2 separate regions of the Homo sapiens genome follow, and region 1 is linked to region 2. The links come from fine-mapping of genetic effects on gene expression. A gene starts in region 2. The other region holds a variant in brackets. All regions are shown on one strand. Distances are from middle to middle. Region 1 holds the start of AP5S1 (adaptor related protein complex 5 subunit sigma 1). Region 2 holds the start of CDC25B (cell division cycle 25B).

Region 1 (16,382 bases), 30 kb before region 2:
GCATGGTGGTGTGCACCTGTAATCCCAGCTACTCAGGAGGCTGAGGCAGTAGAATCGCTTGAACCCGGGACGTGGAGATTGCAGTGAGCCGAGACTGCGCCTAAGTAGCTGGGATTACAGGCGTGTACCACCATTCCTGGCTTATTTTTGTATTTTTAGTAGAGACGTGGTTTCTGCCATGTTGGCCAGCCTTGTCTTGGACTCCTGACAGAGGGAGGGAAGGAGGGACGGAGGGAAGGAAGGAAGGAACGAAGGAAAGAAGGAAGGAAGGAACGAAGGAAGGAAGGAAGGAAGGAAGGAAGGAAGGAAGGAAGCAAGGAAACTACAGACCAGTATCTCTTGTGAACATAGATGCAAAACTCCTCAACAAAATAGTAGCAAATCAAATCCAGTAATGTATAAAAATAATTACTCAAAATGACCAAGCGGGATTTATTCCAGGTATGTGAGGCTAGTTCAACATTTGAAAATCAATTAAGATAATCAATTACATTGACAGGCTAACGATGTAAAATTGCATTATCATACCAATAAAAGCAGAAAAAGCATGTGGCAAAGTCCAACCACCATTTACAATAAAAACTCTCAACAAACTAGGAAATAAGAGAACTTCACAAGTTGATAAAGAACATTTACAAAAATCATACTTAATGGTGAGAAACTGGAAGCTTTCCCACTAAGGTCAGGAACAAGGCAATAATGTCCTAACAACTCATTTTCAATGTTGTACCAAAAGTCCTAGCTAATGTAGAAAATCTGAAAGAATCAACAAAAACAAACCAACAAAAACTCTTGGAACGAATAAGCATTACAGCAAGATTGCAAGACACAACATTAATATACAAAAGTCAATTGCTAAGCTGGACGAAGTGGCTCATGCCTGTAATTCCTGCACTTTGAGAGGTCAAGGCAGGCGGATCTATTGAGTCCAGGAGTTTGAGATTAGCCTTGGCAACCTCCCTGTAGGAAGACCTTATCTCTATTAAAAAAAGAAAAACTCAGCCGGGTGTGGTGATTCACACCTGTAATCCCAGCATTTTGGGAGGCTGAGGTGGGTGGATCACTGGGTCAAGAGATTGAGACCATCCTGGCCAACATGGTGAAACCCCGTGTCTATTAAAAATACAAAAATTAGCTGGGCATGGTGGTGCGCACCTGTAGTACCAGCTACTCGGGAGGCTGAGGCAGGAGAATCGCTTGAACCCGGGAGGTGGAGGTTGCAGTGAGCTGAGATGGTGGCACTGCACTCCAGCCTGGGCAACAGAGCGAGACTCCGTCTCAAAAAAAAGGAAAAAAATGGTGCCCAGGCACGATGGCTCACGCCTGTAATCCCAGCACTTTGGGAGGCCAAGGTGGGTGGATCACTTGAGATCAGGATTTTGAGACCAGACTGGCCAACATAGTGAAACCTCGTCTCTACTAAAAACACAAAAATTTAGCTGGGCATAGTGGTGCACATCTGTAATCTCAGCTACTTGGGAGGCTGAGGTGGGGGGATCACTTGAGCCCAGAAGGCACAGGCTGCAGTGAGCCAAGACTGCGCCACTGCACTCCAGCTTGGGCAACAGAGTGAGACCCTGTCTCAAAAAAGAAAAAAAAGTCAATTGCTTTCACTTATACAAGCAATCAGCAAGTGCAATGTTTTTTTTTTGTTTTTTTTTGTTTTTTTTTTTTTTGAGACAGAGTTTCACTCTGTTGCCCAGGCTGGAGTACAGTGGCGCGATCTCGGCTCACCGCAAGCTCCGCCTCCCGGGTTCATGCCATTCTCCTGCCTCAGCCTCCCGAGTAGCTGGGACTACAGGCGCTCACCACCACACCCAGCTAATTTTTTTGTATTTTTAGTAGACACGGGGTTTCACTGTGTTAACCAGGATGGTCTCGATCTCCTCACCTTGTGATCCGCCCGCCTCAGCCTCTCAAAGTGCTGGGATTACAGGAGTAAGCCACTACGCCCAGCTTTTTTTTTTTTTTTTTTTTGAGACAGTTTCACTCTGTCACCCAGGCTGAAGTGCAGTGGCATGATCTCAGCTCACTGGACCTCCACCTCCCAGGTTCAAATGATTCTCCTGCCTCAGCCTCCCAAGTAGCTGGGATTATAGGCATGTACCACCACTCCTGGCTAATTTTTGTATTTTTAGTAGAGACACGGTTTCTGCCATGTTGGCCAGGCTGGTCTCGGATTCCTGACCTCAGATGATCTACCCACCTTGGCCTCCCAAAGTGCTGGGATTATAGGCATGAGCCACTGTGCCCAGCCAAGTGCAATCTGATATTAAAACCACATTACCCACTTTGGAAGGCCAAGGTGGGAGGATTGCTTGAGCTCAGGAGTTGAAGGCCAGCTTGGACAACATAGCAAGACCCTGTCTCTACTAAATATTTAAAATTTAGCTGGGTGTGGTGGTGCATGCCTGTGGTGGGAAGATCACTTAGCCAGGGAGGTCCAGGCTGCAGTGAGCTGTGATCACACTACTGTACTGTAGCCTGGGTGACAGAGTAAAGACCTTGTCTCCAAAAAAAAAAAAAAAAAAAAATATATATATATATACACACACACACACACACACCACACACACACATATATATATAGATATATATATATGAAGAAAAAAGTTAAAGATTGACACTGCCTGACTTCAAGACTTACTATAAAGTTACAGTAATCAAGATAGTGGGCCAGGTGCAGTGGCTCACGCCTGTAATCCCAGCACTTTGGGAGGCCGAGGCGGGCAGATCACAAGGTCAGGAGATCAAGACCATCCTGGCTAATACGGTGAAACCCCGTCTCTGCTAAAAATACAAAAACAAAATTAGCCAGGTGTGGTGGCGGGCGCCTGTAGTCCCAGCTACTCAGGAGCCTGAGGCGGGAGAATGGCGTAAAGCTGGGAGGCGGAGCTTGCAGTGAGCCGAGATTGCGCCACTGCACTCCAGCCTGGGCGACAGAGTGAGACTCTCTCTCAGAAAAAAAAAAAAAAAAAAAAAAAAAACCTTGAAAAAAGATAGTGTGGTGGCCAGGCACAGTGGCTCATGCCTATAATCCCAGCATTTTGTGAGGCTGAGGTGGGCAGATTACCAGAGGTCAGGAGTTTGAGACCAGCCTGGCCAACACGGTGAAATCCCATCTCTAACAAAAATAGAAAAATTAGCCAGGCATGGTGGTGCATGCCTATAGTCCCAGCTACTAGGGAGGCTAAGGCGGGAGGGTGGCTTGAACCTGGAAGGTGGAGGTTGCAGTGAGCCAAGATTGCACCATTACACTCCAGGCTGGGTAAGAGTGAGACTCCATCTCAAAAAAAAAAAAAAAAAAAAATAGTGTAGTATTGGCAAAAGAATAGACAAACAGATTAATGGAACAGAATAAAGAACCCAGGAGAGACCCACATTAATACAGTCAACTGGTCTCTGACAAAGGAGTAAAAGCAATACAATGGAACAAAGATAGAAAGACTCTTTTCAAGAGATTATGTTGGAACAACTGAACATCCACATGCAAAAACATGAATCTACACATAGACCTTACACCCTTCACAAAAATGAACTCAAAATGGATCATAGACCTAAATGTAAAATGCAAAACTGTAAAACTTCTAGTAGATAACATAGGAGAAAATCTAGATGATATTGGATTGGTGATGACTTTTTAAATACAACAGTAAAGGCAGGATCCATTTAAAAAATTGACAAAGAGCTGGGCATGGTGGCTCACGCCTGTAATCCCAGCACTTTGGGAGGCCGAGGCGGGTGGATCACCTGAGGTCGGGAGTTCGAGACCAGCCTAACCAACATGGAGAAACCCTGTCTCTACGAAAAATACAAAATTAGCCAAGGGTGGTGGCACATGCCTGTAATCCCAGCTACTCAGGAGGCTGAGGCAGGGGAATTGCTTGAACCCGGGAGGCGAGGTTGTGGCGAGCCGAGATTGCACCATTGCACTCCAACCTGGGCAACAAGAGAGAAACTCCGTCTCAAAAAAAAAAAAAAAAAAAATTGACAAACTTCATTAATTTTTTTTTTTTTTTTTTGGAAACAAAGTCTTGCTCTGTCACCCAGGCTGGAGTGCAGTGGCACAGTCACAGGTCAGTGCAGCCTTGACCTCCTGGGCTTAAGCAATCCTTCGACCTCAGCCTCCCAAGTAGCTGGGACCACAGGTGTGCACCACACTCAGCCAATTTTTATATTTTTTTGTAGAGATGAAGTCTCTATGTTGTACAGGCTGGTTTCGAACTCCTGGGCTCAAGCAATCCTCCTGCCTTGGCCTCCCAAAGTGCTGGGATTACAGGCCTCATGAGCCACCTCGCCCGGCCCACTTCATTAAATTATATGAAACTGGACTTCATTAAATTTAAAAAGCTCTGCTTTGTGAAAGACACTGTCAAGAGAATGAGAAGACAAGCCACAGACTGGGAGAAAATATTTGCAAAAGGTATATCTGATAAAGAGCTGTTATCCAAAATACACAAAGAACTCTTAAAACTCAACAAAAAGAAATCACCCAAACAAGTTGCCTGTTTTAAAATGGGCAAAAGACTTGAACAGACACCTCACTAAAGATTTACAGATGGCAAGTAAGCATAGGAAAGATACTCTACGTCATGTTATTAGGGAACTGCAAATTAAAACAAGATTTCACTACATACCTATTAGAATGGCCAAAAGCCAGCCGGGTGCAGAGGCTCATGCCTGTAATCCCAGCACTCTGGGAGGCTGAAGCAGGCAGATGACTTCAGGTCAGGAGTTTGAGACCAGCCTGGCCAATATGGTGAAACCCTCTCTCTTCTAAAAATACAAAAATCAGCCAGGCGCGGTGGCGTGTGCCTGTAGTCCCAGCTATTCAGGAGGCTGAGGCAGAAGAATGGTTTGAACCCGGGAGGCGGAGGTCGCAGTGAGTGGAGATTGTGCCACTGCACTCCAGCCTGGATGACAGAGCGAGACTCTGTCTCAGAAAAAAAAAAAAAAAAATCAGCCAGGCGTGGTGGCACACGCCTGTAATCCCAGCTACTCGGGAAGCTGAGGCAGGAGAATTGCTTGAACCTGGGCAGTCAAGGTTGCAGTGAGGCGAGATAGTGCCACTGCACTCCAGTCTGGATGACAAAGGACACTCCGTCTCAGGAAAAAAAAAAAAAAAAAGAATGGGCCAAAACCAAAACAGTGACGAAACCAAATGTTTCAGAGGATGTAGAGCAACAGAAACCCTCATTAACTGCCAACAGGAATGCAAAATGGTACAGCCACTTTTGAAGACAGTTTGGCAGTTTCTTACAAAATGAAACATACTCTTACCACAGAATCCAGGACTCATATTCCTTGGTATTTATGAGTATTTATACTCCCAAAGGAGTTGAAAACTTATGTTCACACAAAAACCTGTACACAAATGTTTGTAGCAGTTGTATTCATAATTGCCAAAACTTGGAAGCAACCAAGATGTCCTTCAGTAGGTGAACAGATAATGTACATCCACATAATGGAATACTATTCAGCAGTACTTCCAAAATGAGCTGTCAAGCTCATGATTCAGCCATGAAAAGACTTGAAGGAATCTTAAATGTACATTACTAAGTGAAGGAAGTCAATCTGAAAAGGCTACATATACAGTATGAATCTAACTACACAACATTCTGGAAAAGGCAAAACTATGGAAGCAGTAAAAGGATCAATGGTTGCTAGGGGTTGAGGGGAGGGAAGAATGAACAGGTGCAGCAGAGGACTGTTCGGGCAGGGAAACTCTTCTGTATGATACTATAATGGTAGATGCATGTCACTGAAAATACATCCAAACCTATAGAATGTACCACCCCAAGAGTGAACCCTAATGTAAACTATGGACTCTGGTGATAGTGACGTGTCAATGAAGGTCCATCAGTTGTAACAAATGACCACTCTGGTGCCCAGTGTTGGTGATAAGGGAGGCTGTGCATGTGTGGGGACAGGGAGTAAATGAGAACTCTCTGTACCCTCTGCTCAGTTTTACTGTGAACCTAAAATTGCACTAAACAAATAAAGTATATTTAAGAAAACGGTCACGGCCACTTGAATTGCAGTAATAAACATACAGAGACTTGGTTAACGGGTCACAGAGTATTGAATCTGACAAACACGGTTAACTGCATTACAATAAAATATAGGAATAATTGTTTAAAAGAAAAGATTGAGGCCAGGCATGGTGGCTCACACCTGTAATCTCAGCACTTTGGGAGGCCAATATGGGTGGATCACCTGAGGTAAGGAGTTCGAGACCAGCCTGGCCAACACGGTGAAACCCTGTCTCTACTAAAGATACAAAAATTAGCCAGGCATGGTGGCACATGCTTGTAATCCCAGCTACTTGGGAGGCTGAGGCGGTAGAATTGCTTGAACCCAGGAGGCAGAGGTTGCAGTGAGCCAAGATTGCACCACTGCACTCCAGCCTGAGCAACAGAGTGAGACTCCATCTCAAAAAAAAAAAAAAAAGAAAAAGAAAAGAAAACATTGAGCCCTGGGGGGATGCTGGACAGTGCGCAGCACCACAGGGCTAGAAAAAAACACCCTGCCCTAAAGGAGACAAGATGATCCAATCCCATCCCAGGGCTCACATACATGCAGTGTATGTGACCCAATCAGTGACCCACATACATGCAGGCCAGTTCCTGCCTTAAAACCTGTGACTTCATGCCAGTCAGTCGTGGTGGCTCACGCCTATAATCCCGGTACTTTGAGAGGCCACGGCGGGCGGATCACAAGGTCAGGAGATGTAGACCAACCTGGCTAACACGGTGAAACCCCGTCTCTACTAAAAATAGAAAAACTTAACCGGACGTGGTGGCAGGCACCTGTAGTCCCAGCTACTTGGGAGGCTGAGACAGAATGGCGTGAATCTGGGAGGCGGAGCTTGCAATGAGCCGAGATTGCGCCACTGCACTCCAGCCTGGGCAACAAAGAGAAACTCCGCCTAAAACAAAACAAAACAAAACCTGTGACTTCTTCCTCCTTCCAGGTAAGCTCTCTTCTCTGGGCTCTACTGCCCTCCTGTCATCATCTGTTGTCCCAGGAGTGTTTGTGGAGGTACACTGGTAACACTACTAGCTGCTCAAAGTCTCTAGTTCTCTCAAGAAGCTGAGGGATATGTGGTTTGGCCAGGGTTCCTGGGGCAGGGAGAAGAAAGGGAAGAGGCTTGGAGAGGGAGGCAAGTTTGCTTCCATAGCCATCTCACTTTTAGTTCTAAATCCTGGCTCCTTCACTTGGCCTTCGTCACTGAAGTGCCCCTTCTTCCTTTAGGTGTTTAAAGCACTTGTGAGCAGCAATTCAGGGATGCTCAAACCATTGCTGCTTTGCAGTCATCTGCAGTCACCTGGCCTTAGCTCTGTCTCTCCTGGAACTTTGGGGTCATTCTGTATCCTGCATTGCACCCAGCAGAGCATCAGGCCCAAGGGAGGCTCGATAAATATATGGTGAGCATAAATTGTGGTGGAAACCCAGCCCAAGAGGCTGGGGCAGAAGTGTGAAGTGTGGGAAGGGTGCTGGGCAAGCTCATCTGGTTAAGAAAACCCTGGTCCAGCTGGACAGGAACTGGAGCTCAGCAGCCCCACGGTGTGGTCTCAGTCTCTACTATTCTCTTGTCCATCAGTTTGCCCCACCTCATGAGAACCAGGCCACCAGCCACGCCTAACCTCAACTTCCCACAGCTCCCAGGGGAGCAGAGTCTCAACCTCTTCCTTAAGTTCCGTTTGAAAAAAAGGCAGAAAGAATTCAGATCAGTAAGCTTGAGCCTTTCCATAGAGGACAAAATGGCCTGTTCCCTGAGAACACAGCCAATCCACCAGGACCGCCAGCCTGGGGTGAGGGGTGGGCCAGGAGAACAGAATGTATAGGGAAGGGGTGTCCCTACTAGAGGCCTGTGGGACATTTCCACTGGTGGGACTTGGCCACACACACAGAGTAACATCCCTTTAGGTCTTCATGGTCAAGGTGGTTTGTGGCACCATAAAATGGAAAAGGTGGCCTCATCCCAATTATGTTGACAGTGGTGGTAGAAGGCCTGGCATGGCTGGTGGCCTTGGCCATGGACTTGGAAGGGCTAATCATCAGTGCTGCCTCCAAAGTGGGTGTAGTTGGGTCCATCCTGGATGCTAAAGGGCAACTGATGGATGGCAAGCATGAGAGCTGAGCACCTAGGAGGCTCGTTCTGCCAAGAAAGCCTCACCTTCCTTGGTAACAGGAAGATCATGAAAATCAATGTAAACTGAAGTGGTTTTTCCCCCACCCCCCGCCCCCAACTGAGTAAGTTTAAACCTTCACTAGAAGCTGCTGATTGAAGACCTCCTAACCACCGACTTTTGGTACCCCACCCATATCCCTTTGGGACTCAACATGGTGCAGGCAGGCCCAGCTCCACATTGCCTGAAGGCTTTTTCTCAGGGGCAGAAAGAGCCAGGGAATGTATGCACCCTGGGATCAACCTGTAACCACTGACTAAAGGCAGTAGGCAAACACCCACAGCCGCCACCTCTCAGGTGAGGTAATTCAGAGGCAACTGCTGTGTGCAGCCCCCTAGAGGCACTCAGCTCCCTACCACAGTCCTAATAGGCTTGACAAGCATTCACGAGGACTGTGTCCCCTTCCTGCTTCCCGGGATCACCGCCCACCCCACATAAACCACTCGCACCAATTCTCAGCCCAAGCACTGCTTCTCAGACGGCTCTGCCACAGCCACCTGCCACCTGTGACATATACTTTGGTGGAGAAATGTGTGCCACCATCCAAAGGAGGCCTCTAAGGAGACAGAGGTGAGGTGGGGATGAGAGATGGAGGCATCCCAAGAAGCCTCCTAGGGGGATCCTTGACCACGAAAGCTCAGACACGCAGCTTTGGGGCCATCCAGAGAGGCACTCACTCATAGGAGCAGGATGCACGCATCAAACTCACAGAAAGAGGGTAAAATCACACAGCCAGTGCTTTTAATTCAAAACGAAAAATATGTCATCCAGGCTAGACTGCTCACATTCATCTGACAGCAACTTCTCTCCCTGCAGATGAGGGAAGGCTGTGATGACTTTATCTCGAGCCTGCCTGGTGGGAACGGGCTTGGCACAAAAGGAGCTGCAGAATCCTGCTGCTGATTGGCAGATGCATTTCTGAACTCAGCGGGGGCTGGACACTGAGCAGGACCTTGTTGATAATACTGCCTAAGTGGGCACAAAGCCAGGGGCTGTGGCCTGCCAGCATGCAGGCACAGCTCCTCCACCCTCAGGGGAGTCTGAGACCCCTTTTGTGTTTCGATGACTGTGGGATTTTTTTTTTTTTTTT[G/TTTTTTG]AGATGGAGTCTCACTCTGTTGCCCAGGCTGGAGTGAAGTGGCGCACTCTCGGCTCACTGCAAACTCTGCCTCCCAGGTTCAAGTGATTCCCATGACTCAGCCCCCTGAGCAGCTAGGATTACAGGTGGGCGCCATACACCCAGCTAATTTTTGTATTTTTAGTAGAGATGGGGTTTCACTATGTTGGCCAGGCTGGTCTTGAACTCCCGACCTGAGGTGGTCCAACCACCTCAGCCCCGCAAAGTGCTGGGATTACAGGCGTGAGCCACCGCGCCTGGCCTTGACTGTGGGTTTGGAAGAAGAGCGGGGTGAGCTCCAGGCAGCTCCTCACCCTAGCACTATCGGCTGGCAGGGATGGAGGAAGGTGGGTTCAAGGACAAGCGTGGCTGCCGCACGGCAGCGGTCTAAGTAACACAGCAGCTCTAGGCTCAGGAAGTTCTGTGGTTCCACTAACCTGAGGACAGGCAGGACCTCCTCCACCCTCTGCCCAGCCCCCTTTCTGCAGGCTTGTGTCACCCACTTGTCCTGGTATAGCAGCACATCAGAGCTGCTGGGTAGGAGGGAGATGCCAAGCTTCATCTGGCTGTGTGTCTACCCTCTGCCTGCCCTCAGAAGCACCATCCCAACGAGGAATCAGCGGGGCCAAGCGGCACTGAATTCCTTCTCCAGGCCTTGGACAAACTGGTCGTTGAGGAAAAGCAGCTGACCATGTGGCAGGAAGCGGGTGAGGATGCCCTCAATGCGGTCAGCCCGCAGCAGAAGGCTGGTGCTGGGCGCCAGCAGCCGGAGGTGGTCAAGGAGGAGGCGTGTCAGCAGCCGGAGCGTGCCCTCAGCCAGTAGCAGGTTCTCATGGGCATCCAGCACCAGGGCAAAGCCTAACGAGAGCACGCCCAGCCACACCACCGTCCGTGGCTCCTGGAAAGGGTTCTCTGCTGCCAGGCGGAAAGCCCCACGTGGGGCCTCGTGCAGCGGCACTTGCTCATCTGAGGATTGCGGCTGCAGGTCCATGGGGGGCCGGCCAGATGCCTGCTGCTGCAGCCGACACATTGACTCTACCTGCCTGGGGAGAGTGGGCAGGTCAGGCTGGTGGGCTCACACACCAACTCTGTCATCCTCATGATCAACCCTGGTGCTGGGAGCTACCATCATCCCCATATCTCAAGTGAGAAAACTGAGGCCTAGAGAGACTAAGTGATCTGCCCAGGGCCACAGAATCAGGAAGTGTGAGCCTCCAGGTCCTGAACCACTTTATTCCATGTGGCCAAGAGGGCAGGTTTTCAACCCAGCTCCTTGGGCTGAAAAAGGGCACCAGAGGAAGAAGATCCTGCCCTCACCTGCTTCACAGAGGCCTTCTCCACATAAAGGAAAGGGAAGCGGCTTGGCCAGGCGCGGTGGCTCAAGCCTGTAATCCCAGCACTTTGGGAGGCCGAGGCGGGCGGATCACGAGGTCAGGAGATCGAGACCATCCTGGCTAACATAGTGAAACCCCGTCTCTACTAAAAATATTTAAAAAAATTAGCCAGGCGTGGTGGCGGGCGCCTGTAGTCCCAGCTACTCGGGAGGCTGAGGCAGGAGAATGGCATGAACCCAGGAGGCGGAGGTTGCAGTGAGCCAAGATTGCGCCACTGCACTCCAGCCTGGGCGACAGAGCAAGACTCCATCTCAAAAAAAGGAAAGGGATGAGGCAGAAAATAAACGCCATCACCCAACGTGGGCAGTCCAATCTCCACCCTATCCTGCAACCCTCTCCAAATATGAAAGAAAGACCTTCCATTGGACCAACAAGGCTTCTTAGAAGCTCCCTTTGATCTTTCCTGAATCACCTTCCAGTCTGAGCCACGCACAGGCTGGTTTTAAAGGCATGTATTTGGTTTTCTGAGCTACAGGGAGGGGAAGGAGAATAAGAAGAACAAGGGAAAGGCAGGAGTTGGCAGAAGGTTGCCCCAGAGTGGTGCTACCCCACCCAGAATGCGGAGGTCCAGGAGGCTCCAGCACCTACCAGTTCTGGCTGGGTCTGAGAGGGGAAGAGCCAAGGCTAGCCACCCTAGTCTGGAACAGTATATTCCAAACTGTGATCTGGATCCCTGGCTTTCTGGAGTCCTCATGTACCACATCCTCTCTCTTCGTTAGAAATTCATAAAGTCTACAGGCACACTAAAGGCCCTGTTAAGTACTGCACTGAAAAGCATGTTTAATCTGTACTGTCTGCCTGCCTACTCTCAAATCTTAGTTCTGCTACTTTCTAGCTATGTAACCTTGGACAGGTTAAATTCCTCAAACACTCTATACCTCAGTTTACTCATCTATAAGGTGGAGATAATAACTATACCTACCTCAAAAGACTATTATGAGGATTAAATGAGTTAATATATATAAGATGTTCAGAATATAAATGCTTAGCACTTACAGGCTGAACAAATGCTAATTATACTAATAATGATAACAGAATTATTATTTATTTAACCCTTTTCACGTAACACTTATGAAAAGCTGTGGAAGACTCTCTGGGAAATGCTACTCTAAAACTTCCTCTCTGCTTCTTAGTCCTCCTATTTCTCTGCGTCCCCACTCCCCGAAAATACCTATTACAATCAGGTACGTGTTCAATGAAGGCCTGGGGCTGGGCTGTGTGGTTACCTGGCCACAGCTAAAATCTGTTCCTTCCGGAGAAGCCTGTCCCTCTCGGCACCATGCGGCCGTGGGTCATCAGGTGACTTCTCAGCACCGAAGACGCAGGAGTACAGCACTCGGCAAAGGCCCGTGTCCTCAGTATTCGGGGCCCTCAAGGTGTGAATGAGGAAGGCGTGGACCATGGCTCCAGGGTGGGTGCTACAGGGAAGCCAGAGACATTGGTAAGGTGAGAGTGAACCCCAGCAGGAGAGGCGACCACAGGAAGGGGCTGACCTGGCAGTGTCTGGGAGTGTATCCAGAGGCCAGTGAGGCTGAACACTTTGAATAACAGCATCTGAACAACATCACATAACAGAATCCAGTGATAAAAAATCTCAGACATACATAAGCAGAATAGGCATAAACTAAAAAAAAAAAAAAAGAAAAAAGAAAAACAAACAAACAAACAAAAAAAATCTCAGACCACCCTAAACCTAGTTCTACAAAACAACAGGTATCTTCAAAAGCGTCAAGGTCATGCGGTCATGGAAAACCTGAGGAGCTGCTCCAGACCGAAGGAGACTGAAGAGACCAGATAGCTGAATGCGACGTGTACTCCTGGATCGGGTCCTGGACCAAGAAAAGGGTAATTTGGGCCAGGTGTGGTGACTCACGCCTGTAATCCCAGCACCTTGGGAGGTCTAGGTGGGCGGATCACTTGAGGTCAGGAGTTCCAGACCAGCCTGCCAACATGGTGAAACCTCATCTCTACTAAAAATAAATTAGCCGGGCATGGTGGCGCATGGTTGTAACCCCAGCTACTTGAGAGGCTGAAGCCACAGAATCGCTTGAACCCGGGAGGGGAGGCTGCAGTGAGCCGAGATCGCACCACTGCACTTCAGCCTGGGCGACAGAGGGAAACTCTTGTCTCAAAAAAAAAGAAAGAAAAACAAAAGGATAATTTCCATAAAGGGCATTATTAGGACACTAATAAAAACTTTAAAAACATTTCAATATGGACTATGGGTCAGAAAAAGTCTTGACCAATGTTACCCGATTTTGAATGCAGGAGCTCGTCCTTGTTTTTAGAAAATAAACACGGATGGGCCTCTAAATATAGAGGAAACAGGATTTCATATCTGCAACTAACTCACTTGGTCCAGGGAAGAAAAAAGGCAGAGAGAAAAACAGAGGAAATAATAAGGTAAATGGGGCAAATGAGGTTACAACTTGTGAATCTCATCCAAGTGCATACAGGAGTTACCTGAAACTGTTTCAAAATAGAAACTAAATAATAGTAATGGTTATCTGGCTGGCTCAGTGGCCGGCCCGGGGGTTGAAAGGCGGCGGGTACACAGTCAGTGGGTATCTGTAGCTAAGGCTAAACAGACCGTCAGTTTAAACTGGTAAAATAGCAGGTTCGCAAAGGCACTTCGAGAACCGGAGCCCAGCACCCAATTGCTGACCTCCGCAACCCTCCAGCCGCCAGCAGAGCGCGTCATCACTCCGCGCCGCCGCGTCCCGCCTCTACTAGAGAAATGGTAGCGGTCAAGACAGCTTACGTCACTGCCTCCGTAACCTTGAGGCGCAAGGCACTTCGGGGGTTGTAGTTTCTTACTCCGGTCAGCCAGGCCTAAATGGGGCACCCCGCCCTGAATGTGTTGCCCCTGCAGCTCCGGTCCGCTGTCGTCGAGGCGTCGCCTCAGCCTTCCGTCCGGGCCCGCGGACTGCCACCAAGCGCTCCCCTCCGTGGCAGGAGAGCAATGGCGGCTGCGCGGCCCGTGGGCGCCTGCGCACGTCGGTCGCGGGCGCGCGCGCCAGCTGACGCCGTCGGGTTGGGCGGAGCGCTCATGTCCAGCGCGGTGCTGCAGCAGCCAGGTGCTGGCGGCATATCCCGATGCTTGGACCCTCGGCGTGGGCTGGCCTTGCAGTCAAAACCCTCCGGCCCCGAGCTGCCGGCAGGGACCATGCTGGTCACTCTCGCTGCGGGCTCGAAGCGTCCCCCGCTCGTTGCCCTAGATCAGCGGAGCCCCAGGCTGCCGACCCCGGCGGCCGCGAGGGGGCGCCGCGGCTCGGAGCGCGGAGTCTGCGGAAAAGGCCGGGGCCTAGTTGTCCCCGGAGGGCGGGGCGCGTCGCCTGCGGCCTTAGGAGGCTCCGGGACGGGCGGCGGGTGGACCTAGGCCGGGCCGCGCAGCTACGGGCTGCGGCTGAGTTCTTATCTAGCCAACATGCGTGAGAATCACTGGGGCACCAGTTCAAATGTACATTCCTGGGCTGTACCCCCGGAAATTATGACTTTGGAGGGAAATATGTGTATTTAGGCACATGGGTATTTTGCGCGGATTTTAAATACAAATATGTGTATTTTGCGCAGATTCTGAATTTGTGGGTTCCTGCAGCGGTTTAATGCTGTCACTCGGTTCGGCGCAGAACGATTCGAACGCTGCTTCTGGACTCTCAGTGTGTGTCCCTGGCAGATCTGTCAATTTCATTGGGCCCCAGTAAAACCTTGTAGAGTGTCGCCCAGGGCGAACGCTTAGTAGGGCTGACCAGCAAGCCCCCTTCTTGACTGGAGGCCATCAAAACAACAGGGAAGAGGTTTATACCTTAAACCTGAAAGGGGCACTCTGGCGCTAACCCCTATAGAGCCTTACGTAAAAGCCCCAACTTGGAGGCTTGGCCCATTGGTGTTTGGGGGCCCCACAAGGCCTGCCTGGGCCTCACTGCCTGACTTGCATGTGTTCCTCCAGCCACCACCACCACTACCACCCCCACCGCGACCATGAAGCTGCACCTCCTTTACCTCTTGGCATGTGAATGGCTTCAGCCTTGTCCCCCAAATGTGCCTCGGAGCCTCCCCCACTGACTGTTCCCCCAGCCTAGAATTCCCTTTCCCGGCTTTTTTTTTTTTTTTTTTTTTTTTTGCAGCCTCGCTGCCCGCTCCCATCAGCAATGCTCCTACCTCAGCCCCCCAAGTAGCTGGGACTATAGGCAGGCAACACATCCAGCTACTTTAAATTTTTTTGTAGAGTTAGCGTCTCACTGTATTGCCCAGGCTGGTCTTGAACTCTGGGCTCAAGTGATCCTCCCGCTTCTCCCCCACAAATTGCTAGGATTACAGGCGTGAGTCTCCACGCCTGGCCTTTCCTGTCCTTTTAATTGACCTTGTAGATATATACTCAGACAAAATGGGAGGAAGCCTTCCTGCTCAGGCTGCCCGTTGGCATTCAGCTGCGGCCTTTGCACCCCTGTGAATCAGGTCTCACCAATAGTGCTGATGGCTTCCATCTCCACTCCCCAGGGCCATGCACAACACAGGACTGGAGCCGGCTTGAACACGCTCTTTGGTGACAAGAAAGGAGAACAGGGTAGGGTGGCCCAGGCAGGGATCCTAGAGCCAGCACCCCCTGAGAAAGTGCACTCTGGGCCCCTTAAGCCATAGGACCCAGGATAGGTTAGGAGGTGACTGAAGGGAAGCTGCAGGTGGCCAGGGCCTGGCCAAAGCATGTGACAACACGTAAATGTGTGTGCAGGTGTTGCGGCAAGCCCAGAGACTGTGGGGCCTCAGCTACGAGGCTGGGGAGTGATGTTGGCACAGCTCCTGGTCCCCAGTCCCTATTGCTCTCAGCCAGGGCTGGTGTCTGCCAGCTGATTACAGCAGAGAGCTAGCAAGGAGAGGGCTCTGGTTGCTGGGGGCCACCTGGCATCTGGAACACAGTTTCCCAGCCTCTGTCCACTCCTCAGGCAGTGAGTCAACACCAAGTTTCTGACCACTAGAGGGCTGGCCTCATGTGAGGTGTGTGGAGGAGACAGCTGTGGGAGGCTGGCTTGAGCTACTACTCCCAGAGGACAGTGGGAGACCCAGATGGAGGTGACAGCATGGAGGGCTTCCTCAGCCTACTGGGAGTGGGGGTTTTGCTTGATGGTTTTGCTGGAGGCTGCTTGTGGGTGTGCCCTGGGAGATCCCTTTTCCTTGGCCACTGGGCTCTCCTGGGTCCAACCCATGCTTCTGAGAGTCTGTTCTGGGTACATTGGGAATGTCTATGCCTGCTAGCTCAGACATCATCTAAAACAGCAAGCCCAGCAGTGGCTACTCATGCTGACCTCACTGCTCCATGACCCAGCAGCGCCACTCTTGATGTGTACCTGAGTGAAATAAGGGCTGTTGTTCACCAAAAGACACAAATAGAATATTCATAGTATCTTTGCTCTTTTTTTTTTTTTTTTTTTTTTTTTGAGATGGAGTCTTGCTCTTGTCACCCAGGCTGGAGTGCAGTGGCACGATCTCGGCTCACTGCAACCTTTGCCTCCTGGATTCAAGCGATTCTCCTGCCTTAGCCTCCCGAGTAGCTGGGGTTACAGGCACCTGCCACCACGTCTGTCTAATTTTTGTATTTTCATTAGAGACGGGGTTTCGCCATGTTGGCCAGGCTGGTCTCGAACTCCTGGCCTCATGAACTCCTGCCCGCCTTGGCCTCCCAAAGTGCTG
Region 2 (16,382 bases):
AGAGCACAGGAATGTAACCACAAGAACACTTTTAGGTCACTCTGGCTACAGAAGAGGGTGGGGAGGCGGAAGGAAGGAGGTAAAATCAAGGGGATGAACTCTCCGTTTCTAGAAGGCAGTTGCACAATCTTTGTTAGAGATATCTGTGCCTGGACCAGGAAAGGAGAAGCAGGAGAGGAGACAAGTGGGCCAAATTCAAGGGATCCATTCGGGCCACTCCTGGACAAGACCTGGTGAGGATCAGTGGTGGGGAGAAGGGAGGAGGAGGACCCAAGACTGAAGCCAGTGCCCAGGCCCGGTGCCCAGGTGGAGGTGGGTGCCATATGCTGGGATGCCTGGAGAAGTTGGGAGGGCCGCAGGGATGCGACTCTGTAAGGGGCGTCTGGGTGCAGATTCCCACCACATGGGTGAGGCCAGGCTGGGGAGCCACTAGCAGTCATATGGACCAGTGGCAACCCAGGAGGAGGCAGGGGTGGGAGGACAGATGGCCAGGCAGAACAGGAATAGCGACAGAAGGAGCTCAGCCAGGGAGGCCCAGGTGCTGTGGATGCCAATGGAAGAGGTTCTAATGGAGACCTAACAGCACTGAACATGGGGAGGGTCCGTGTACTGGGGACTGACACGCGGCCCTTAGATTTCGAGAAAAGACACCGCTAGAGACTTGGAACTAAATTTTCTGAGGGTGGCAGTAATGGATGTGGGGTGGACATGAGGCTTGATAGGCAGGACAGTGAGGGAGATGGGAGGCGGGTACCATGCACAGTGAAGTGGGGCTGAGGTCAGCTCTAGGCCATCAGATGGGACAGAGGAGGACCTGGACTTGCACCCCTGGCCATCTCAATGGTGCCAGCACCTGTGAGCCTGGGCAGGGAAGGCCAGGGCAGACACTAGCTGGCTGGGCGGAGCTGGGACTCACATGCGGGGCCCACGCTCAGATGAGAATTCACAGTGGAAAATGAGGATGACTCTCTTGTCCAGGCTACAGGGCGCGATGGGGCTCTTCAGTAGGAAGCTCTCGGCGTCGCGTTCCAGGGGCAAGTTCACCGCAGTCTGTCAGAGGAGCCAGAGGTCAGGCACAGCCCCGGGTCCAGGAGTCAGGGCCCTCCCCGTGCAGTCGCTGTCCTTCTCTTAGTAGGAACCCTCCCCATGAGAGGGGGCACCCGTCCTCCACCCATTCACCCTCTTGGCAAAGCAAGGACCTAAACCAGGTGGGATCTTCAGGGCCTCTCCCCATTGCCCCATCTTACCTTGATGTGCCCGCCTTCATATTCATAGGGGTATCTGCAGTCTACAATCACAAACTTATCCACGATGTTGCTGAACTTGCCCGTCAATAGGGCCACCATCTGTAGGAGGTCATGGGGGTTGGTTCCGGCAGGTCAGGCTGGCAGCTGGCAGGTGGCCCTAGCCTGTCCCCAGGGAAGGTCAACAATGGAGCTACAGTCCCAAATCTGCCTAGAAAATGACGCAACGCTGTTTACCGTTTCTGGTGAGATGTACTTGAGGTCTTGGTGCTTTCCGTCTACTGTCTGTAGGAGGAAGGCCTGAAGGGAACGGAAGGGATGAGGGAGAGGGGAGAAAGTTAAATTGGTAAGACCAGGAGCCTCAAAGAATGAAGTTTCATTCCCAAAATCAGAGGCCACACCTGCTTTGGCCTTCAAATTCAGTTCTGGTTCCCATGGCAACTGAGAGGCACCTCTTGGGTCTGACACCCAGGGAACAACCTTCCAAGGGGAAAGAGAAATGAAAAAGGGAAGTGGAAGAGATGAACTCCACACTCTGCTCCCTACCCTCTGCCAAGCCCGAAGGTGAGGCATGAGGGGGTTCCAAGCTAGGTATGAGCTTGGAAATAAGACGGAGACTCAACAGATGCCTGGACTGACTTGAGGTGGAGTCAGGAGACAAGGAGGGCCAGAGGGAGGAGTCTATGTGAGAACAAAGGATGAAAAGATACAAAGGACAAAGAAAAGGGGGGCTCCGGGGAGAAAGGGAGGAACCCAAGCAGCCCCTGGGCTAGAGGACCCCTAGTCAGTAAGAGGTCAAGCCCCCAAGGTACCCCCTTCGCTGCTGCAGGTACCTTAGAGTAATCTCCAATCAGCTCTCGGTGGTCACTGTCCAGGAGGTTCTCGATCTCATCGTGACACAGTGATTTTGAGCGGAGGACGCGGGCTTTCTGGAAAGTGAGTCAGATGGAGGCCAGGGTCAGGGTGGGGCTGCCCCCCAGTGCTCTGGCTGGCTGGTACCCCCTTTCTCTGCCATGCCCAGGCTGCCACCTGCCCTCTGCCACAAACTTAGCCAAGGGGGTGGCTGCCCAGGTGCATGCCAAAGTGAACCCCAGGAGGAAGGCACTCACAGGTTCCTCAGCCTCCTGCTGCTCCTCAGGAGGGGTCACGCTCCGCCTCCGCTTATTCTGCACGGGCGTGTCCCTGTCCTGGGGCCGCTCCAGCCTCTTGAGGATGGGCCGGATCACGCTGCAGGGCATGGACGGAGAGCGGAAGAGCCGCTGGCACTTGCTGTACATGACGAGGTCCTGGCAGGGACAGCAGGTTAGGGATCAGGGTGCCCAGGCCCCGTCCCATCCCTCAAATCCACTGGAGAGTAGGATGGACCCCATGCCTCCAAATTCGGAGGGGGCCACCCCAGAGGCCCACCTTTTCCTCTTCCTTTTCCAAGGTCTTGACCAGTGGGGCACTAATGAGACTCTCCATGCCTGGGGGAACTGCATCATCATCCTGAGGCCAGATTAGCAAGGACAGGGTCACAACCCACAGGCATAGGCCAAACCCCTCCAGTCCCGGAATCCTCCAGCACAGCCTTCCCTGTTTCCCTGGCAAACTCCAGGTTGGGGTGAGAAGCTCCCCTACCTCCCAAACCGCCCTCCACTGTGGCACCAGCCACCTGTTCTTCTCTCATTGGCCAGAGGTTAGGCTGTGACTCAGTTACCTCAGATTCTTCTTCTGACACTGGAATGACATCATGGTCCTGCCACAAGGGCTCAGAGCTCTCTTCTTTTGGGCGAACCCAGGGATAGGAAGGTAGGGGCCTGGTGGGACAAGGCTGTTTACCTTTAAGTCACTCTCTAGGATGTCCACAAATCCATCATCTTCCTCAGTATCCCCCTCTGCAGGGGTCAGAGAGAAGCGACCTAGGGCCAGGGGGCTGAGCTCCTCCACTTCCATCTTCCGGTCAGGACTGAGACACTGTCCACATGACAGACAGACACAGACTTAGAGGTGGAGATAGTTCCCGCCCCCATCCTCCTGAGGAAAAGTTCCCAGTGCCTGGGGGTTCAGGGCCACCCTCCTCTTCTCCGAGGCTGCCTCCCCAGGCCCCTCCCAGGGATCCGCTCTCTGGATGTACCATCAGGTCGGGGGCCGAGCTGGGTCTCTGGGCAAAGGCTTCCCTGCGGCTGGCCCACTCTGCCAGAGCATGGGTGGAGCTGGGATGTGTGGGCTTCCATGGCATCTTGAAGACAAATCCATCCTGCAGCCAAGATGGGAGAGGAGGGTCCTCACATGCCAGGGAACCACCCCAGCATGCCCCCTCCTCTTCCCGGAGAGCTCCCACCCCGGCCTTCCAGAAGCGCACATTCTCCTTGTCTTCCCCAGAGCTGCTGGCAGCTCCACTGCCCGCCTCGCTCTTCCTCCGGCCGTCGGGCGCCTGGGAGTTGGTGATGTTCCGAAGCACGGGGCTGTGGCCCAGCAGCCTCACCTAGAGAGCCAGGCAGGGCGGCAGGCAGAGGAATGAAGGCTGCATTCCTCCGGCACGAGCCCAGGCCCTACCTTCTCCACCTCTCCTCCAGCTCCTCCCACTTACCTACCTACCTCTGAAACCCCATCTCCTACAGCCTGCCTGGGGACACCCAGCTGGGAGGTGATCCCTGAATGCATCCTGCTCATCTACCCCATGCCTGGCTAGCATGCCTAAGCCTCAGTCAGGCCTCGAAGACACTCACCGGCATAGACTGGAAGCGTCTGATGGCAAACTGCTCGCTACAGGAGGAAATGGGGACAGGTGAGAGCTGGGAGAGGCAGGGCAGGGACCAAGAGCATGCAGCATGCCCTTCTGGAGCCCTGTCCTAAGGGAAAGCTTGTGGTAGATGGAAGAGGCCCAGGAACACTTACTTTCGAATGATCCGGCTGGCTGCCTGGATGGCCTGTTCAAACCTAGGACAGAGAAGGGTCCCATGCAACCCATGCTCCCTCCGCACCCATCACCCACCCCAGCACCAGGCCCCCAGTCCAGGGGGGAGTAAGGGCAAAGACAAGGGCCAAGGCTCAAGGCAGTGGAAGGGGTGGGGTGGGAAGAACGCCCACCATCAGGGGGCCCAGGTATTGGGGAGGGGGAAGATAAGAGGCAGCTTGGAATTTTAAAGGCTGCCCTGAATGAAAGAAAGCCCAGAGAATGGCAGTGATAGAGACAGCTGGGGCAGGTCAGGGTCAGGGAGGCGTCACCAAGGCAACAGTCTCGCCAGCCTGCACCAGGCCTTCCACCTGTATGCAAATCACCTCAGCGGGGCCATATGGCTGCCAGGAAAGGCATCCATCCATCCTATGATAGGCCAGGGGCACCCAGCAATGTGGGTGTCTCCAGGGCCTGGACAACAGCAAGGCTAGGCTTCCTCTCCCCTGTGAGGAGCTGGCCTGGCTCCCGGTCCTCTGAGGACTGGGGCCTGCTTTAGGGCTCCCCCAGTCAGCTCCAGTCTGATACAGTAGACCCCCAGTGACAAACGTGCAGGCTCACATCCTCTCCTCCCTCCTATGGAATTTTCCAGGACCAGCCTCTGTCCCACCCCCTCCTCCTGCCTTAGAAGAGGCCAGCAGGCAAGGAATTCCAACACATGTTCCCTCTGAGGCCCCGCCCCCTCAGCCGTGTTACAGGAGACCACCTGCCACGCGGAGCTTTTGTGCATCTACGCGCGCGCGCGCACACACACACACACACACACACACACACACACACACACACAGCTTCTGAGAAACTCTGTATAACTGTCAGAGCAGGTGCAGGGCAGGGAACCACTCAGGGATAAAGTATGAGGGGGATGCCCCCCCGGGGGGCTGCTGTGCCCAGCCAACCTGGCATCAGGGATGACCAATTTCATTGGCTTGCACATGGGCCTTGGGGGTAGGGCAAGATTGCTCTGTGCTGCCACCAAAACCAACCTGCAGTCCCCCAACCCCACCCAATCCTCTCCCCATTTCCTGTTTGTGAACCAATCTGCAGCCCAACCCAGTCTGATCAAAGGCAATGGGAGGTAAGACAAGTCACTATCCTAAACCCAAAGCCACAGTCCCCAGCACAGGCCAGAGATGCCCAGCTGTCCCTACTAATGGCTGGCAGCTGCCCCGCTGCTTGGGCTTTAACAACTGGATGGGAACAGCTGTGCTCTGGAAGACACCACCCATGCCCACAGCCAAGGGGATGGTCTGTCCAGGCCAGAGCCCACCAACTCTCTCTCCATTCCCTTGCAGAAAGGGCCTAGACCAGGGCTGGCCAGAGGGTAAAGTGTCATCGAAGTCAGAGGTTGCTGATCGGCCAAGAGCCAAATCAATCTGCAGGCAACTGTGTTTTGTTTGGCCTAGAGTGAGTTAAAGTTTTGAATTAGTTGGATCATATTTTTAAATTGTAATATTTCACAGAAAAAAATGGGTATAGGCAAGAAAGAAAAACGGGACATACGCTGGGCTTGTATTCCTGCAAGACATGGGCTGTAGTCTAGTATCTGCTCTCCCAGTGGCCACTGTCCCCACTATCCCTGGCCCTGAGCCCACACTCGGTTGGCTCCCATGAGAGCAGATCCTTCTCTGAGACAGGGAGCAGAATGCCAAGGCCTGAGAAAGTCAGTGAGCCCCCCGGCCATGGGGATCCTGAAGCCACCCCATGGTCTGTCTGCTTTCCCAGGCCTCCCGGGTGAATTTATGGTAGAACTAGGATTCTTAAAGACAGGTGCTGAATGCTTGGAAGTACACATTCCCTTCTCTACTCACGTCTGCTCCGCCATGTGGGGGTCCATAGGGCTGGGGGAATCCATGCAGAGACCTGAGGGGACAGAGCACCTTGGTTTGAAAGTAGTGGCACTTTCTGTATTCTTTCCCCCACCATGTCCCAATATGAAAAAAAAAAAAAAAAAAAAAACAGTTTCTAGTTTGGACTTTGACACATTAGAAAATGAAACAAAAACCCAACCATGGACCCTGAGAGCTGACACATCGTCCCCCAGACGGTACAGGGCTCCACTCCCTGTTTACTATGGAAATTCCTTCATATGCGTCTTTAAACCACAATGCTCACTAAGCATTTTTCTTGAACTGGTTTAAAATAATTTGTTCTAGAAGAGACAACAGATTTTTAAAGAAGAGGTTATAGGCTAAGAATGTTTTAAAGACCAACTCTCAGCCCTGGGTGCTTCCCAGGTAGGGTTGTGGTTTAGGAACTCTGGAGCGTGGTTTTACATAGGTAAGATCTCATCTCCGTAGAGGGCCCCACCCTCTCATCCACTCAGCCAGTCCGCGTTGGGTGTGGTGAGCCCCACAAGAGGTGTGTCTTCCTCCCATTTCTGTGGAGGGTGGGGGAGAGGCTCCTGGGCCCACCAGGTTGTGGGGAGGATGTTAGTTTGATCGGCAGGGAAATTGGGAGGCCCAGGCAGCCCCCACAAACTCTCCTGACACAGGCAGATCTCCCCAGGCTCCCCTGGGCCTCACCTGCATCAGAAGATTCGGAGGATTCAGACGACAGGGAGGATTCGGATGCCCGTCGAGACAGGGATAGGTGCGTCAGGCGGCTGCGGCTGCGGAAGAGCAGGGTCCCTACCTGACTCTTTGGGGTTTCGCTGGGAAGGGAACAGGGACCCGGGAAAGGAGAAAGGTAAACGTGGGGCTCAAGGCCTGGCTAGCCCACGTTCCCACTCCCTTGCTGAGAAAAGAACTGAGCGAAACACTACACCGGGAAAGCAATGGCCCTGAGGGCCCCCTCTTCTCAGGTCAAGGAAGGTTCATTCTACAGAGGCCCTAAAGCGTCTTCTCTTCGTTGACTGGTTTAGGAAAGGTCCTCTCAGGAGCAGGGCAAGGTGAGCCCAGGGTGTGAGCAAGGCTGCCTGGCTGGAGGCCAGCCTAAGGGTTGGTGGTCTAGCAGAGCCGCCCCAGAGAGCCTTCCCCTAAACTGTCAGACCCCCACCTTTCCAGGACCCTTCCTGAAGGATGGACCAAGACCAGGTTCTCCTACTGGAACAACCCAGCTCTCCCCTTGCAGACTTAGGGAGCAGGATCAGTGTTTAATTAATTGTCTTAATTCTGGGGGCAGAACTGGGGTGGAGGGAGCAGGGGCATGGATGTGTGAGTGCTCCACGGCTCTGCCACCCTTAAGTTCCCTCTCCAGGCTTGAGATTCCCATCCTGGGGCAAAATGGTGGCTATCCGGGCAGAGATTACGGAGGCAGCGTGGTGGAGGCACAATGAGGGAGGAGGGAGTGAGGGGAAAGAAGATTTGGAGAGGCTTGTGCAGACTGAGAGCAGGTCACCTGGAGGTGTGGGGGGCACAGCCCAGGTCTCACTTCCCATGTCCTGGGCCCCTAGGAGGGAACAAGGGCGTACCTCTCCACTGCTCAGGATGCCTCCCCGGACTCCACCTCCTGGATTCGACTACCATGCCCAGTTCTCCAGGAGGCCCAGGACTCCAGACCTAGCCTCTCACCCCCATATGCAGCCTCCTTGGGGTGTCCTACCTGCCGAGCCCGGCGAGGTCGTGCATGGTCTGGGTGAGGGTGGTGACCGGCGAGGAAGCGGCCGCCCGCACCGGGGACCCCAGGAGGCCATGAGATCCCAGCAGGAGGCCCGGGAGGTGGCCCGGACGCTGGGCGCCACCGCACACGCCTGCTGGACTGAGAGCCGAGCCTGGCGCGGGCTCCGGCTGGGGCACCTCCATCGCGGCGGGGCCGGCAGAAGGCTGGCTGGAGGGCCGGGCGCAGGGCAGCCAACAAACGCCGGCACAGCTGGCTGGGCCGAGGGAGGCAGCGGGCGAGGGGTGGGGGGGGGGGGAAGGAGGGAGGGAGGAAGAGCCACAGGGCCAGGCGCGAGGGAGGAGAGGGATGCGGGGAGGGCGGGGGGCGAGGGACGCCGGGCTCAGGCACCAGCCAGGGAAGCCTCTAGTTGCAGCTGCCACTTCCACCTCCTTATATATTCGAAAAATAACAGCAGCCGCGCCGCCGGACGCCACCAATGGGGTAGCGGGTTAGATGAGGGCGGGACTGAGGGCGGGGCCCGCAGGGCAAGAGGCGCGGAGGCTGGATTTCCAGGCTTTGGGTGGGCCGGAGGAATTAAGATTTATCCCACACCCTCGCACATCCCCCTGGCGCGAGGATCCCGGCCTCCCAAAATCCGCCTCTCGCGACATGGTTTGGAGCTCCACACTCCCAAAGGCAGCAGCAACGCCCTAGGGTGGCCTCCGCAGGACCCCCCGCGGCATGTCGTCACCTGGGATCACCGCTAGGGATGGGGAGAGGCTCCAACTGGCTCCCGGAAGTTTGCTAAACCCAGCTGGGCTGTACGGTCTGCGTTAGACACCCCATTTTACAGACCTGGACGCTGAGGCGTGAAGTTCATTAACTCAATCAAGGTCACGCGGTTGGGCAGGCGGTGGGCCAGGATTCGCTCGCTCCAGGCGCCTCTGACCGCGCAGCCTCCCCGCCTCCGCGACTGGCTGCGCTGAGCAGCAGCAAAACGTCATTCGCAGGAGAAGCGCCCAGCGTAGGAGGTGGGAGGGCAGTGGGGCCCCCAAGCGGAACTGATGGGCTCTTTCGCGGGACCCCAGGTTAGATGTTACCCCAACCGGCCCAATTTTCGCGGCAGCCCCAGGAGAGGCTCTAAACGGTGGAACTAGGAATGGATTTCCGCGGCTGGGGGTCGAGGAGGGTGTCAGCAACCAGAGAGGCGAATTAAGTATCACGCCCATTGATGATTTGGCTAACTTGGTGCCAATGGCACCATATTATTTAATTGGTGTTTCTTTGATGACCAGACCAGGGAGGCTGAATTTGTCATTCGTTTTAAGCGGAGCAGCTTCCAATTATCTTTCTTTTTGTTTTGTTTTGTTTTTTTTGGGATGGAGTCTCCCTCTGTCAACCCGGCTGGAGTGCAGTGGCCATCTCTGCTCACTACAACCTCCGCCACCCGGGTTCCAGCGATTCTTCTGCCTCAGCCTCCCGAGTAGCTGAGACTACAGGAGCGCGCCACCACGCCCAGCTAATGTTTGTATTTTTAGTAGAGACGGGGGTTTCACCATATTGGCCAGGCTGGTCTCGAACTCCTGACCTCGTGATCCACCCACCTAGGCCTCCCAAAGTGCTGGGATTACACGCACGAGCCACTGTGCCCGGCCCATCTTCCAATTATCTAAATGCCTTCCAGCCCCGCTCGTTTTCCAGGCCTCCTGGAACAAGAGGCCTGAAGGCTGCACCCAAAAGCCGGTGGGTAGTGAGCAGCTTTCGCATCCTGTCTCCCCAGGTTAGAAGTGGCCTCTGGCTGGGCGGGTGGTGGTGCGGGGGGCGGGCTGCAGCTCAGCAAGGCAGGAGTACCCCTTCTCGTGCAGTCCCAGCCACCCAGACCCAAGGTGCATTGGATGGGGGTGGCAAAAGGGAGGGCCTGGTGATGGGGGGCTGGGTGGGCCAATGCATCTGAAGGGTAGGGGAAGACCCCAGCCCCACCTGAGAGGGGTGGCCAAGGTGGGAACGTGACCTTTCCTTTTCTCCAAATTTTGCCCAGCTCCTGTGCTGTGCAGAGGGCTCTGCAAGACTGAATTTCCGGTTCATCCTCCCTGGGTCAGGGGTTATGCCCTGGACCTCCAGCCACTACTTCCAGTGAGGATGTGACTGCCCTTAGTGCCAGGAGGGAAGGGGGAAGTGTCCTTGTAAAGCCACCCAGCCCAAAAACCAGAAAAAAAAAACTGCCCCGAGATTTGCATTTTCAAAATAAACACAACAGGTATCCCCCCCACCCCCCACCCAGCCAATATACATCTGCACAGGGTGTATGTGGCAGGGCAGGCATTATACTATTGAATCCCTTGAAATCCCACAGTCAAAAAACACATGAAAAAATGCTCATCATCACTGGCCATCAGAGAAATGCAAATCAAAACCACAATGAGATACCATCTCACACCAGTTAGAATGGCAATCATTAAAAAGTCAGGAAACAACAGGTGCTGGAGAGGATGTGGAGAAATAGGAACACTTTTACACCGCTGGTGGGACTGTAAACTAGTTCAACCCTTGTGGAAGTCAGTGTGGCGATTCCTCAGGGATCTAGAACTAGAAATACCATTTGACCCAGCCATCCCATTACTGGGTATATACCCAAAGGATTATAAATCATGCTGCTATAAAGACACATGCACATGTATGTTTATTGCGGCACTATTCACAATAGCAAAGACTTGGAACCAACCCAAATGTCCAACAATGATAGACTGGATTAAGAAAATGTGGCACATATACACCATGGAATACTATGCAGCCATAAAAAATGATGAGTTCATGTCCTTTGTAGGGACATGGATGAAATTGGAAATAATCATTCTCAGTAAACTATCGCAAGAACAAAAAACCAAACACCGCATATTCTACTCATAGGTGGGAATTGAACAATGAGAACACATGGACACAGGAAGGGGAACATCACACTCTGGGGACTGTTGTGGGGTGGGGGGAGGGGGGAGGGATAGCATTAGGAGATATACCTAATGCTAAATGACGAGTTAATGGGTGTAGCACACCAGCATGGCACATGTATACATATGTAACTAACCTGCACATTGTGCACATGTACCCTAAAACTTAAAGTATAATAATAATAAAATAAAAAAATAAAATAAAATAAAATAAAATTCTCTAAAACCAAAAAAAAAAAAACAGAAATCCCACAGTCAGGTCACCTCTGGGCCAGTGAGGGGGGAGGTGGGCAAGACCACAGAGGGGTTCTGGGTTTTTTTGTTTGTTTGTTTGAGATGGAGTCTCGCCCTGTCGCCCAGGCTGGAGTGCAGTGGCATGATCTCGGCTCACTGCAACCTCTGCCTCCTGGGTTCAAGCGATTTTCCTGCCTCAGCCTCTCGAGTACCTGGGATTACAGGTGCCCGCCACCATTCCTGGCCAATTTTGTATTTTCAGTAGAGACAGGGTTTTGCCATATTGGCCAGGCTGGTCTCGAACTCCTGACCTCAGGTGATCCACCCACCTCGGCCTCCCAAAGTGCTAGGATTACAGGCGTGAGCCACTGCGCCTGGCCCACATACATAATTTAAAATATTCTAGTAGCCACATTTAAAACAGTAAAAAAGAAACATGAAATTACTGTAATATTTTATTCAATGTAATGTATTCAAAATATTATTCGACATGTTATCAATATAAATTAATGAGATATTTTACATTTTTGGATATCAAGTCTTCAAACTAGTATGCATTTTACACCCCCAGCACATCTCAATTTGTACTTGCAACATTTAAAGGGCTCAATAGTGCTGGCACTGTGGCTCACACCTATAATCCCAGCAACTCCAGAGCCTGCTGCAGGACAATTGCCTGAGGCTAGTAATTCAAGACCAGCCTGGGCAATATGGTGAAACCTTGTCTCTACAAAACATTTTTTAAAAACTTAGCCCGGTGTGGTGGCCCCTGCCTATAATCCAAGTGACTCGCTGGGCACGGTGGCTCACACCTGTAATCCCAGCACTTTGGGAGGCCGAGGCAGGTGGATCACAAGGTCAGGAGTTTGAGACCAGCCTGGCCGACATGGTGAAAACCTGTCTCTACTAAAAATACATACATTAGTTTGGCCTGGTGGCACCGACCTGAAATCCCAGCTACTCGGGAGGCTGAGGCAGGAGAATCGCTTGAACCTGGGAGGCGGAGGTTGCAGTGAGCCTAGATCATGCCATTGCACTCCAGCCTGGGCGAAAAGAGCAAGACTCCGTCTCAAAAACAGACAAACAAACAAAAAATCCAAGTGACTCTGGAGGCTGAGGTAGGAGGATAGCTTGAGCCCAGGAGTTTGAGTCTGCAGTGAGCCATAATTCCACCACTGCACTCCAGCCTGGGCAACAGAGTGAGACTTTGATTCTAAACATAAAATAAATAAATTAATAGTTCAATGGCCACTTAGGGTTAGTGGCTGCAGGTCTATATCTTTACAAGCGTAAATCCGTCTGTATTTTAAAGAATATACAAACAGCATATGAACATTGTTCTAGGCTGGCATGCTGGCTCACACCTGTAATCCCAGTACTTTGGGAGGCCAAGGTAGGTGGATCACCTGAAGTCAGGAGTTCAAGATCAGCCTGGGCAACATGGTGAAACCCTGTCTCTACTAAAAATACAAAAATTAGCCAGGCATGGTGGCATGTGCCTGTAATCCCAGCTACTTGGGAGTCTGAGGCAGGAGAATCACCTGAATCCAGGAGGCGGAGGTTGCAGTGAGCCAAGATCGTGCCACTGCACTCCAGCCTGGGTGACAAAGTGAGATTCTGTCTCAAAAATAAATAAATAAATAAAAATAAAAACCACTGTTCTATACCTTTCTTCTTCTTACTTGGAGATGGATCCATATTAGTACCATAACAATATATATTTACTCAAGCCCCTAATGCTGAACATTTAGGATATTAGCTTTTACAACGATGCAGTAAGTATGCCCTTATGTGTCTGTGTGCTATCTACAAGATGAATTCCTAGGGAGGAACTGATGGGAGGCACAGCATTTAGTTTGTTTTCTGTTTTTGTTTTGAGTCCAAGTCTCTCCGTCACCCAGGCTGGAGGGCAGTGTTAAATCTCGGCTCACTGCAACATCTGTCTCCTGAGTTCAAGCAATCCTCCCACCTCAGCCTCCCAAGTAGCTGTGACTACAGGCGCATCCCACTATGCTTGGCACATTTTTGTATTTTTTGGAGAGACTGGGTTTTGTCATGTTCCCCAGGCTGGTCTTGAACTCCTGGGCTTAAGCGATCCACCAGCCTCAGTCTCCAAAAGTGCTGGGATTACAGGCATGAGCCACCACACCCAGTAGCATTAAGTATTGAAATCTCCTTTTCCCTTTCTTGAATCTCATCTCAAGCTGACTGGACTATTGAAGGACAAGGACTAAATCATTTACCTCTCTCCCAGGCTCCCAGAACCTTGCTCCCAGAACTTTGGTTCAAGACCAAAGTTGGCCCCTGACCCTAATATCCCACTTCTCAGCATTTCTCTTAAGGAGATGATAAAAGTACACACAGATGTATGTTCGTTGAGTTATTGTCTTCAATAGGGGAGGTGATTCCTTTGCACTGTGCAATACATGCAACCTTTAAGGAGAACGGGCAGTCAGGTGGGGATGCCTGCTTGGTAGGGGCTCATTATTGAAAGACTACATGTTGAGATCATAGCAAATGGACTTCTGAACAAGTTTCCTAGAGTAAAAGAAGTGTGGGTGGTGGCTCATGCCTATAATCCCAGCACTTTGGGAGGCTAAGGAGGAAGACTCGCTTGAGCTCAGGAGTTCGAGACCAGCCTGGGCAACATGGTGAAACTCTGTCTCTACAAAAAATACAAAAATTAGGCCAGGTGCGGTGGCTCACGCCTGTAATCCCAGCACTTTGGGAGGCCCAGGCAGGTGGATCACCTGAGGTCAGGAGTTTGAGACCAGCCTGGCCAATATGGTGAAACCCTGTCTCTACTAAAAATACAAAAATTAGCCAGGTATAGTAGTTGGCGCCTATAATCCTAGCTACTTGGGAGGCTGAGCAGGAGAAATGACTGAACCTACGAGGCAGAGGTTGCAGTGAGCTGACATTGCACCATTGCACTCTAGCCTGGGTGACCTCGTGATCCACCCGCCTCGGCCTCCCAAAATGCTGGGATTACAGGCGTGAGCCACCGTGCCCAGCCCGAGATGTTAACTTTTAAGCAAATCTTTTTTTTTTTTTTTTGAGACAGAGTTTCTTGAACCTGGGAGGCGGAGGTTGAAGTTGAAGTGAGCCGAGATTGAGCCACTGCACTCCAGCCTGGGCGACAGAGTGAGACTTGGTCTCAAAAAAAAAAAAAAAAAAAATTCCAAAATGGACTGTGGTGACAGTTGAGCACATCTGTGAACTGTACACTTTAAATGGGTGAATTGTATGCTTCTTGAAATATATCTTAATAAAACCTTTTTTTTTTTTGAGACAGAGTCTCACTCTGTCACCCAGGTTAGAGTACAGTGCCGTAATCTCGGCTCACTGCAATCTCTGCCTTTTCTTTCCTTCCTTCTTTCCTTCTTTCTTTTTCCTCCTTTCTTTCAAAACAAAGTTTGTTACCCAAGCTGTAATGCAGTGGTGCAATCATAGTTCATTGCAGCCTCATGCTCCTGGGCTCAGGTGATCCTCCGGCCCACCCCAGCCTCCCTAGGAGCTAGGACTACAGGCGCAAGGCACTATGCCTAGCTAATTTTTTTTTTTTTTGAGACAGAGTCTTGCTCTGTCGCCCAGGCTGGAGTGCAGTGGCGCGATCTCCGCTCACTGCAAGCTCCACCTCCCGGGTTCACGCCACTCTCCTGCCTCAGCCTCCTGAGTAGCTCGGACTACAGGCGCCCGCCACCATGCCCGGCTAATTTTTTGTATTTTTAATAGAGACGGGGTTCCACCGTGTTAGCCAGGATGATCTCGATCTCCTGACCTCGTAATCTGCCCACCTCGGCCTCCCAAAGTGCTGGGATTACAGGCATGAGCCACCGCGCCCAATGTTGTTCTCTTTATTTTTATTATTTATTATTATTTTTTGGCCGGGTGAGGTGGCTCACGGCTGCAATCCTAGTACTTTGGGAGGCCAAGGTAGGCAGATCACTTGAGGTCAGGAGTTTGAGACTAGCCTGGCCAACATGGTGAAACCCTGTCTGTACTAAAAATACAAAACTAAGCCAGGTATGGTGGTGTACACCTGTGATCCCAGCTACTCAGGAGGCTGAAGCAGGAGAATTGCTTGAACCAGGGAGGAGGAGGTTGCAGTGAGCTGAGATCACGCCACTGCACTCCCAGCCTGGGCAACACAGTGAGACTCCGTCTCAAAAAAAAAAATTAAAAATTAGCCAGGCATGGTGCCTCATGCCTGTAGTCCTAGCTACTGAGGAGACTGAGGCTGCAATGAACTATGATCGTGCAACTGTACTCCGTCCTGGGTGACAGAGCTAGACCCTGTCTCAAATAAACAAAAGGAGAATGGAAAGCTTGCTGAGGGGCCTGAAGGACAGCTCTGGGCAGGCTGGACCAAAAGAAGAGAAGGTGAGTTATGGATTTCCCAAACAGTCCTAAAAGCAGAAAGCTGGGACTTACAGAAAGAGGTGGGGAAGCCCGGGGCCTCAGATGGATTGCTGGGGGAAATGGTCACTTGAGAGGGGATGGAAATGGGCCCCGTGCACTGCTACAGGCAAAGGGTAGACGAGGTATCTGGAAATGGCTATGACATCAGCATATGATGGGCGTGGCTTTTCTGTCCTAGAAGTAATTGTGCCAATGCCCTTTGTATGGCACTAAGGAGGGGCCACAGGAAAGGAAAGGAAAGGAAGAGAAAGGAAGGAAGGAAAGAAAGAAGGAAAGGAAGGAAAAGAGAGAAAGAGAAAGAAAGAAGGGAAGGAAGGAAGGAAAGAAAGAAGGAAAGGAAGGAAAAGAGAGAAAGAGAAAGAAAGAAGGGAAGGAAGGAAGGAAAGAAACAAGGAAAAGGATGAAAGAGAGGAAAGAAAGAAAAGATGCATGGCAAGGAGTTCTCATCCAGGTAATCTTAGATTCATTTTTGCCCAGTGACCACACACTCCTCTTGGGCCAAGCAGTGCTCTGGAAAAGTCTCCCACGTGTTCTTTTGGACCTTGAGATTAAAAGAATATCTTTTATATCTCAGGGATAGGGAAGTCCTCTCTAAGTAAGACACAAAACCCCGAAGCAATAAGGAAAAAATTGACAGGTTGAAGATTAAAAACTTCTCATATCCAAAAGATTCCCTAAACTAACTTAGACAAGTGGCAGACAGGGAGAAAACATTTGCAACATACTTAACAAGATCTTTTCTTCAGAGCATGTAAAGAGCTCCTAAAAGTCAAGAAAAAGACAAACACATGGTCAAAGGATATGACTAGAAAATTCACAGGATTCAAATGGCCAAGAAACATACGAAAACAGAAATTTGCACTAAAACAGCAGTGAGTTACACTTTCTTCCTTTGGCTTCCAGAATGCCACAGTAGCCTGGTTTTTCTCCTGCTTCAGGGGCTCCTCCACTTCAAGAGTCTCTATTTGGTTCTTTCTTTCTTTCTTTCTTTTTTTTTGAGATGGAGTCTCACTCTTTTGCCCAGGCTGGAGTGCAGTGGCATGATCTTGGCTCCCTGCAACC

Evidence for each region. PIP is the estimated chance that this variant, and not a neighbour inherited with it, causes the effect.
Region 1: its variant is fine-mapped to the expression of CDC25B in monocytes (Fairfax 2014, PIP 0.95).

The regions. Positions count from the first base shown.
Region 1 is chr20:3,817,832-3,834,213 of GRCh38, reverse strand. AP5S1 (adaptor related protein complex 5 subunit sigma 1) reads right to left here and starts at 13,667. Exons shown (of 3, transcript NM_018347.3): 1 at 13,456-13,667; 2 at 11,921-12,112; 3 at 5,376-10,343. The coding sequence starts at 12,096. The coding sequence ends at 9,917. RefSeq lists enhancers at 2,738-3,238, 13,284-13,623, 13,164-13,867 and a silencer at 13,864-14,143. The variant G/TTTTTTG (reference allele first, on the strand shown) is at 9,283.
Region 2 is chr20:3,788,072-3,804,453 of GRCh38, reverse strand. It overlaps CDC25B (cell division cycle 25B), which reads right to left and starts at 8,144. Exons shown (of 16, transcript NM_021873.4): 1 at 7,723-8,144; 2 at 6,705-6,832; 3 at 5,991-6,042; 4 at 4,125-4,166; 5 at 3,956-3,992; 6 at 3,589-3,711; 7 at 3,361-3,483; 8 at 3,066-3,200; 9 at 2,652-2,732; 10 at 2,354-2,530; 11 at 2,078-2,173; 12 at 1,482-1,544; 13 at 1,248-1,346; 14 at 917-1,050. The coding sequence starts at 7,922. RefSeq lists enhancers at 1,418-2,617, 4,698-4,992, 8,347-8,506, 8,417-9,148 and silencers at 3,658-3,952, 7,553-7,760, 7,827-8,006, 8,047-8,116.